Homo sapiens: one gene and its partner. The gene in region 1 interacts genetically with each later gene. Each region holds a gene or a part of one and is shown in the gene's direction. Other genes may lie near its edges.

The links. A genetic interaction does not mean that the proteins touch.
Region 2: changes in CASP8 (region 1) and CHEK1 together harm fitness more than expected from each alone (negative genetic interaction), as found in Homo sapiens cells (one large-scale study listed by BioGRID).

The regions. Positions count from the first base shown.
Region 1 is NC_000002.12:201,273,981-201,277,635, forward strand, and holds part of CASP8 (caspase-8 isoform 2 precursor), read left to right. Parts: intron 1-908; coding exon 909-973; intron 974-1,542; exon of another isoform or gene 1,543-1,656; intron 1,657-2,846; coding exon 2,847-2,988; exon of another isoform or gene 2,989-3,562; intron 3,563-3,655. UniProt on the Homo sapiens protein: Thiol protease that plays a key role in programmed cell death by acting as a molecular switch for apoptosis, necroptosis and pyroptosis, and is required to prevent tissue damage during embryonic development and adulthood.
Region 2 is NC_000011.10:125,645,534-125,649,188, forward strand, and holds part of CHEK1 (serine/threonine-protein kinase Chk1), read left to right. Parts: intron 1-3,655. UniProt on the Homo sapiens protein: Serine/threonine-protein kinase which is required for checkpoint-mediated cell cycle arrest and activation of DNA repair in response to the presence of DNA damage or unreplicated DNA.

The DNA.
Region 1 (3,655 bases):
GAAAAATTATATACACTAATTGAAGATTATTTTAAATTCAGAGAAATTTTTACAAGTCCAAGAACACCATCACTCCATTCATATTATGAATATTTTTATTGTATTTTTACGTTGGCTCTTTGTGGTGTGTGTGTGTAAAATACATTTTGGATCACTCAAATGTATTTTAAAGATTAATGTCTATGCAGGCTGTCCTTCCCTTTCCCCTCTGCCTGCTGAGCCTAAGGCCTTAAGAATACTTTAAGGAGTAAAGTACTAAATCATTAATTCATCCTGAGCTAGTGGCTTTATTAATGAGTATCTCACAAATACCACAAAAATTCAACCTGGCCATGTGGAGCAATATAAAATTATGGCATTTCTTGGTATGTTTTTCTCTTTGGCGAGGAGACAACTTGATCTTGTGTTTCCAGAAGCATGTTAATTGCCCTGCTTGCAGAATCTCTCTGGCTTGAAAGGAGATTATATTCATGGCAGTCTGTGAATTTTCATTTTATTTCATTTATTTATTTGAGACAGAGTCTCACTCTGTTGCCCAGGCTGGAGTGCAGTAGTGCGATCTCAGCTCACTGCAACCACTACCTCCCAAGTTCAAGTGATTCTCCTGCCTCAGCCTCCTGAGTAGCTGGGACTACAGGTGGCTACCACCACGCCCGGCTAATTTTTTTGTACTTTTAGTAGAGACAGGGTTTCACCATGTTGGCCAGGCTGGTCTTGAACTCCTGACCTCAAGTGATCTGCCCATCTTGGCCTCCCAAAGTGCTGGGATTACCGGCGTGAGCCCCTGTTCCCAGCTTGAATTTTCATCTTAAAAAAGACCTTATGTTGTCCTATGTGCTACATATTTCATTACCAGTGTACCTTTCCTGCCATGTCTCATTCTAGATGTGTCTCTTCGTTGTTTGCAGGGGAGGAGTTGTGTGGGGTAATGACAATCTCGGACTCTCCAAGAGAACAGGATAGTGAATCACAGGTAGACGGAAACCTCCAAATCCTTTTTTTTACATTACAGATTCTAGTTATTTAATTTGTTAGCTTTTTTTTTTTTTTGCTGCCAGATAAACTGACAAGGGGCAGAAACTTACTGAAAATTTTGAGAACTGTAGAAAAAATTCACACAAAAAAAGTTAAAAATGTGACTTAATTTTTAAAATGTGACTCCTTCAGTTTTCTATACATTTGAATTTTATTTTAAGACCCGAGATGAAGATACTGGAATAGTTGGAGGGTGGAGGGGGTAATAAGCCTCCTACCAAATCTTCTAGCAGCCGTGCCAGCCTGGATGGGGGAGTGGTTTGGAGAAAGAGTCTAGCAGGAATGGAAAAAGCCAAGCCTTTTCCTTTAGCTTAATGTTTCAAAAATGCTTCTCCTTGGTGATGAGGTGTAAGCAGCAAACTCTCACAATCTAGCCATCTCTGTGTTTTTGTCTCAGTGAACCAGCAGAAACATGTAATTTTTAGGCATAATAACTTCTCTTTATGTAATCAACAATCCACCAAATACATCCTGACTTATTAGACGATCTGCTCCTCCTCATGGTAGGAAGAAGAGGAAATCCTGAATATCTGAAGTAGGCTTGAGAGAGATTATTCACTAGTGTGGGCTCCTGAGAAAATTACCAGACCTCTTTCATCTGAAAGTCAAGGATTAACCCAAGTAATGTGGTACTTTCTAAACAGTATAGCATGCTACAAGCATTGTCCCCACTGAAGAGCTAAAAACACTGTCTTAATATCTTAGTAAATCTTAGTATCTTTTTCCTTTTTTAATGTTTTATTGAGACAGGGGTCTTGCTACGTTGCCAAGCCAGGTCTCGAACTCCTGGCCTCAAGCAATCCTCCTGCCTTGGCCTCCCAAAGTCTGGGATTATAGGTACTAGCCACCGTGCCTGGCCAAATCTTAGTGTCTTAGTATCTCAGTAAATACACTTAATATGCTTAATAAATACTTAGAACACAACTGTAAATAATAAAAACTTAACATACTTGGTACAAACTTAATCAAATATTTAATATCTTAGAGTTAACATATTAAGATAACAGGTTATTTGCCCAAAGTCATAAGGTGAAGTAGAGGCAGGAATTGGGCTTCCTAGCCTGGAGTCCTTTTCTCCACCTCAAGGGGCTACGCAGACCTCCAACTAAATGCTGAGTTTCTCGGTACTGAAACAGCCCTAGGAGAATGAATAGGACACAGCGCCATCCCTGGCCAGTACTATCAGGTACTACAGTTTGGATACCATAACCTACAGTGTAGCCAGGACCTCCCTGACCAGCCCATCTCTTCCCAGCAGCCACCGTGGTCCTGAGAGCTGGGTTAAGCCATCACCTTTAAAATCCTGGGACCACACTGTGCAATGCATGAATGGGAGACCCTCAGCTGTTAGCCACGAAGCACAGATGAGTTCAGTAGACAGCCAAGAGAATCACAAGTCATGGCGTGGGGGCAGCCAAAGACATTCATTCATTCAGTGACTCTTGATTGAGCTCTCACAAGTTAATACACCGTAGTCCCTGGCACAGATGTTATGAACCTCAAGGAGTCTTCTGTATAGTATGGGAAGCAGAAATGAGAACAAACAATAATACAATGTGATGACAACAATATTAATATATGTGCAAAGTGCTCAGGAGGCCCAGGTATTGGGACACTGACTTTACAACGATGGGGCAGAAGTCTGAGAGGTCCTGTGTGAAGGAAATAGGTAGAAACTAGTTCTTCGAGGAAACGACCCCGAGTTGGGGTGGTGCAATGGAAAGCAAGTCCTCTTACTAGGGAGTTGTTTGTTTACATCTCTAGTGTTTGACCCACAGAGTCAGCTCCTGGGTTGGGTTTTTGTTTTCCAGACTTTGGACAAAGTTTACCAAATGAAAAGCAAACCTCGGGGATACTGTCTGATCATCAACAATCACAATTTTGCAAAAGCACGGGAGAAAGTGCCCAAACTTCACAGCATTAGGGACAGGAATGGAACACACTTGGATGCAGGTACAGTAGAACCCAAAAGAGAAAAGTAAAATATTTCTTATGCCTATTTTTTTTTAAATCAAAAGGGAGAGAACAAAAGCTATACCAAAAGGGCCATGTTTCAAGAAAATGGATTTAAACATATTTCCCTGTGGAGGTAAAGAACATTCTTATACATTTATCAGTTTCCTGCTTTTTTTAAAAATTAATTTTTTAAATAAAAGTAATGTATGTATAAATATAAAATATCAAATCTTACTAAAAGACATAATGAAAAGCAGTAATAAGCTTTGTTTTGAATTCAGCTAAATGCATAGCGCTTCTGTGGAATGTATTAGGCGATGAAATTGCTGTGGTATCAAAGTTCTTATAGAGGCTGCATTTTTACAGGTTGGGCTGTTAAGTGCAGCAGAAATTGTGGGTTCTTAACAGAAATAGCATTTTCAAGTATTAAATATTAAACTGGTTAGCAATTCTTTTGCTCAGCCAAATTAAGCTAAGATCAAGAACTTACAAGTTAAATGAAAAAACAATTTGTAGTATGTGAATATAAAAAGTGACTACAACAACAAAAAATAAAAATCATCCATCACCATTGAGAGATTAATAATTTTGATTTGATCAAAGAACTTTTGGAAATAGTGTTTATCAGGCATAACATCAATTATTGATTTGTTTTGCAAATGGA
Region 2 (3,655 bases), on another chromosome or scaffold:
AAAAAACTATAACGGACATTATTGGAACAATTGGGGAAATTTGAATATGGACTGTATATTAATTAGGTAATGTTTTTGTATCAGCGTCAGATTTCTTGGGTGTGATAATACTGTGGTTTGTAGGAGAATGCCCTTGTTCAAAGGAGAACAAGTGTCAAAGCAAAGTTGAAGTGAAGTGATATTTTCATTCAGCTTAAAATTTAAAAAAATAAAGGGCAAACAACTACATAAAGGCCAATAAACACACACATATCTGGTAGATAAGGCCAATGAAGAGTATATGGTTATTTATTATACTCTTTTTTCAGTTTTTCTGTAGATTCGAGTTTTCAAAATTAAAAATTGGGGGAACTGTTACTGTGTAGAAATCTGAGGTCAGCCTGATAGTCTTCTCACTCACATAGGTGATTCACTTTCTTTCAGGTAGACTCAGAGATAAAATTTGCATAACATAAGAATCATCACTTTAACCATTTTAAAATGTAAAATGCAGTGCTTTTTAGTATATTCACAAGGTTGTGCAACCATCGCCCCTAATTCCAGAACATTGCATCACCACGGGGAAAAAAAAACAAAACACCTCTGTACCACCTAGAATCACTCTTTATTCCTTTCTTGCTCCATTCCCAGACAACCTCGAATCTACTTTCTGTCTTTAGGGATTGCCTTTTTGGACATTTTATATAAATGGAATCATATAACATGTAGTCCTTTGGGTCTGTCTGCTTTCATTTAGCACGTTTTCAAGGTTCATAGCATCTATCAGTACTTTATTCCTTTTTATGGCTGAATAATATTCTGTTGTGTGTATGTATTACATTTCGTTTATCCATTCATCCACTCATGGACATTTGGGTTGTTTCTACTTTTTCATCATTATGAATAATACTGCTGTGAACAATCTTGTACCAGTTTTTGTGTGACCATATGTTTTCAATTTCTTAGATATATATGGAGGAATAGAATTGTTGGAGCATATGGTAACTCTTCATTTAACTTTTTGAGAAACTGTGAAATGATTTTTCCAAAGCACCTGTACCATTTTACGTTCCCATCAGTAATGTAAGAGGGTTCCAATTTCTCTACAACCTTGCCAACACTTACTGCCTCCCCTTTTTGCTATGGCCATCCTAGTGTGTATGAAGTCTTATCTCATTTTGCTTTTGATTTTCATCTCTCTAAAGACTAATGATCTTGAGCATATTCTTATATGCTTATTGGCCATTTCTTTATAACAGTATCCGGATATTTTGTCCATGCTTTAACTGGCTTGTTTTTATTGTTGAGTTGTTAGAGTTCTTTTACATTCTGGACACTAGAACCTTGTCAGGTACCTGATTTGCAAATATTTTATCCCATTCTGTGGGAGAAAATTCCCCCATTCTTTTGTTTTCTTGTTAGTGTCGTTTGATGTACTCAAGTTTTAGATTTTGATGAATTCCAGTGGATCTATAATTTCTCTTTTGTTGCCTATGCTTTTAGTGTCAAATTTAAGAAACTGTTGCCTGATGTAAGATTGTAAAGATTTATACTTTATGCTTTCTTTTAGGAGTCCCAGCCTCCTAAGTAGCGGGGACTACAGTCTTAAAGTTTAGCTCTTATATTTAGGTCTTTGTCCATTTTGAGTTAATATTTGTATATAGTATGATGTAGGGTGCAAATTCAAATGTTTGTATGTGAATATTCAGATTCCAGCACCATTTGTTGAAGATATGTTTTACTATTAGATGGTCTTGGCACCTTTGTTGAAAATAAATAGGTCATAGATGTATGGGTTTATTTCTGGAATCTCAATTCTTTTTTTTTCCTTTTTTTTTTCTTCCCCTGTGGACTCAATTCTTTTATTTCATGGATCTATATGTCTGTGCTATGCCGTTACCACACTATGTTGATTACTGTAGCTTTATAGTGAATTTTGACATTAGAAAATATGAGTTGTCCAAGTTTGTTCTTTTTTTCAAGGTATTTTGGTTATTTGTGGCCCCTTGTTTTTCTGTCTTTTAGGATTATCTTATTTCTGCAAGAAAAAAATTTGGAATTTTAAAAGAGATTACATTGGGGAGTATTTCCATTTTAGTATATATTGAGTATTCTTTATTCAAGGTGCTTGGGACCAAAAGTTTTGTGGATTTTACATTTGTTTGGATTTTGGAATATTTGCATATGCATATTGAGATAACTTACAGATGGGACTCAAGTTGAAACATGAATAATTTTATTTATGCTTCATATATACCTGATACAGATAGCCTGAAGGTAATTTTATACAATGTTTTAAATAATTTTGTGCATGAAACAAAGTTTGTACATTGAACTATCAGAAAGCAAACCTGTCAGGTATGAAATTTTCAGTTTGTCACATGATGTCAGCACCTGAAAAGTTTTGGAGTTTGGAACATTTTGGATTTCAGATTTGAGATTAAGGATGCTAAACCTCTAATAGTAACTCTTCTAATCCAATAACATGGGGCCTTTTTTTTCCCATTTTTTTAGGGTCTTTAATTTCTTTCAAGAATATTTTGTAGTTTTCAGTGTTCAAGTCTTGCACTTCCTAGGTTAAATGTAATCCTGTTTATTCTTTTTTTTTTTATCCTGATGCTGATGTAAATGGAATTTTTTAAAATTTTATTTTCAAATTGTTCATTGCTATATGCAAATGAATTTTGTATATTGATCTTGTATCCTGAAAATTTGCTGAATTCATTAACTCCAGTAGTTTTTTTGACAAATTCTTTAGGTTTTTTAATATATTAAGATTACATTATTTGGCAGGGCGTGGTGGCTCACGCCTGTAATCCCAGCACTTTGGGAGGCCGTTGCGGGTGGATCATGAGGTCAAGCGTTTGAGACCTGCCTGGCCCACATAGTGAAACCCCGTCTCTACTAAAAATACAAAAAATTAGCTGGGCGTGGTTGCGGGCACCGGTAATCCCAGCTACTCGGGAGGCTGAGGCCGGAGAATCACTTGAACCTGGGAGGCGGAGGTTGCAGTGAGCCGAGATGACGCCACTGCACTCCAGCCTGGGCGACAGATCAAGACTCCGTCTCAAAAAAAAAAAAATTACATTGTTTATCAATAGAGATACAGGAAATTGTTTTACTTTTTTTTTTTTTTTTAACCCAGATGCCTTTTAATTCTTTTTGTTTAGTTGTCCTGGCTAGGACTTCCAACATTATGTTGAACAGAAATAGAGTCTTTGTCTTGTTCTTGATCTTAGGGTTAAGTTTCGAGTCTTTCAGCATTAAGTATGATGTTAGCTGTGGGGTTTTTGTTTTTATGGTGAAAGAGTATTGGATTTTGTCAAATGTTTTCTCCGTCTATTGAGATAATCATGTGGATTTTTTTTCCCTTTATTAATATAGCTTGACCTCCTGTGCCCAAGTGATCCTCTCATCTCAGCCTCCTAAGTAGCTGGGACTACAGGTGTACACTATCATACCCAGCTAACTTTTTAAAAATGTTTTTGTAGAGATGCAGTCTCTGTGTTTACCAGGCTGGCCTTGACCTTCTGGGCTCAAGTGATCCTCCTGAGTAGTGGGTACTACAGGTGTGCACCACCATGCCCAGCTAAATTGACAGTTTTCATCAGTCTGTTTATTTTGTCTAATGTTAGTATATCCACATCAGCTCACCAGCTATCTTGTGTATTTTCCT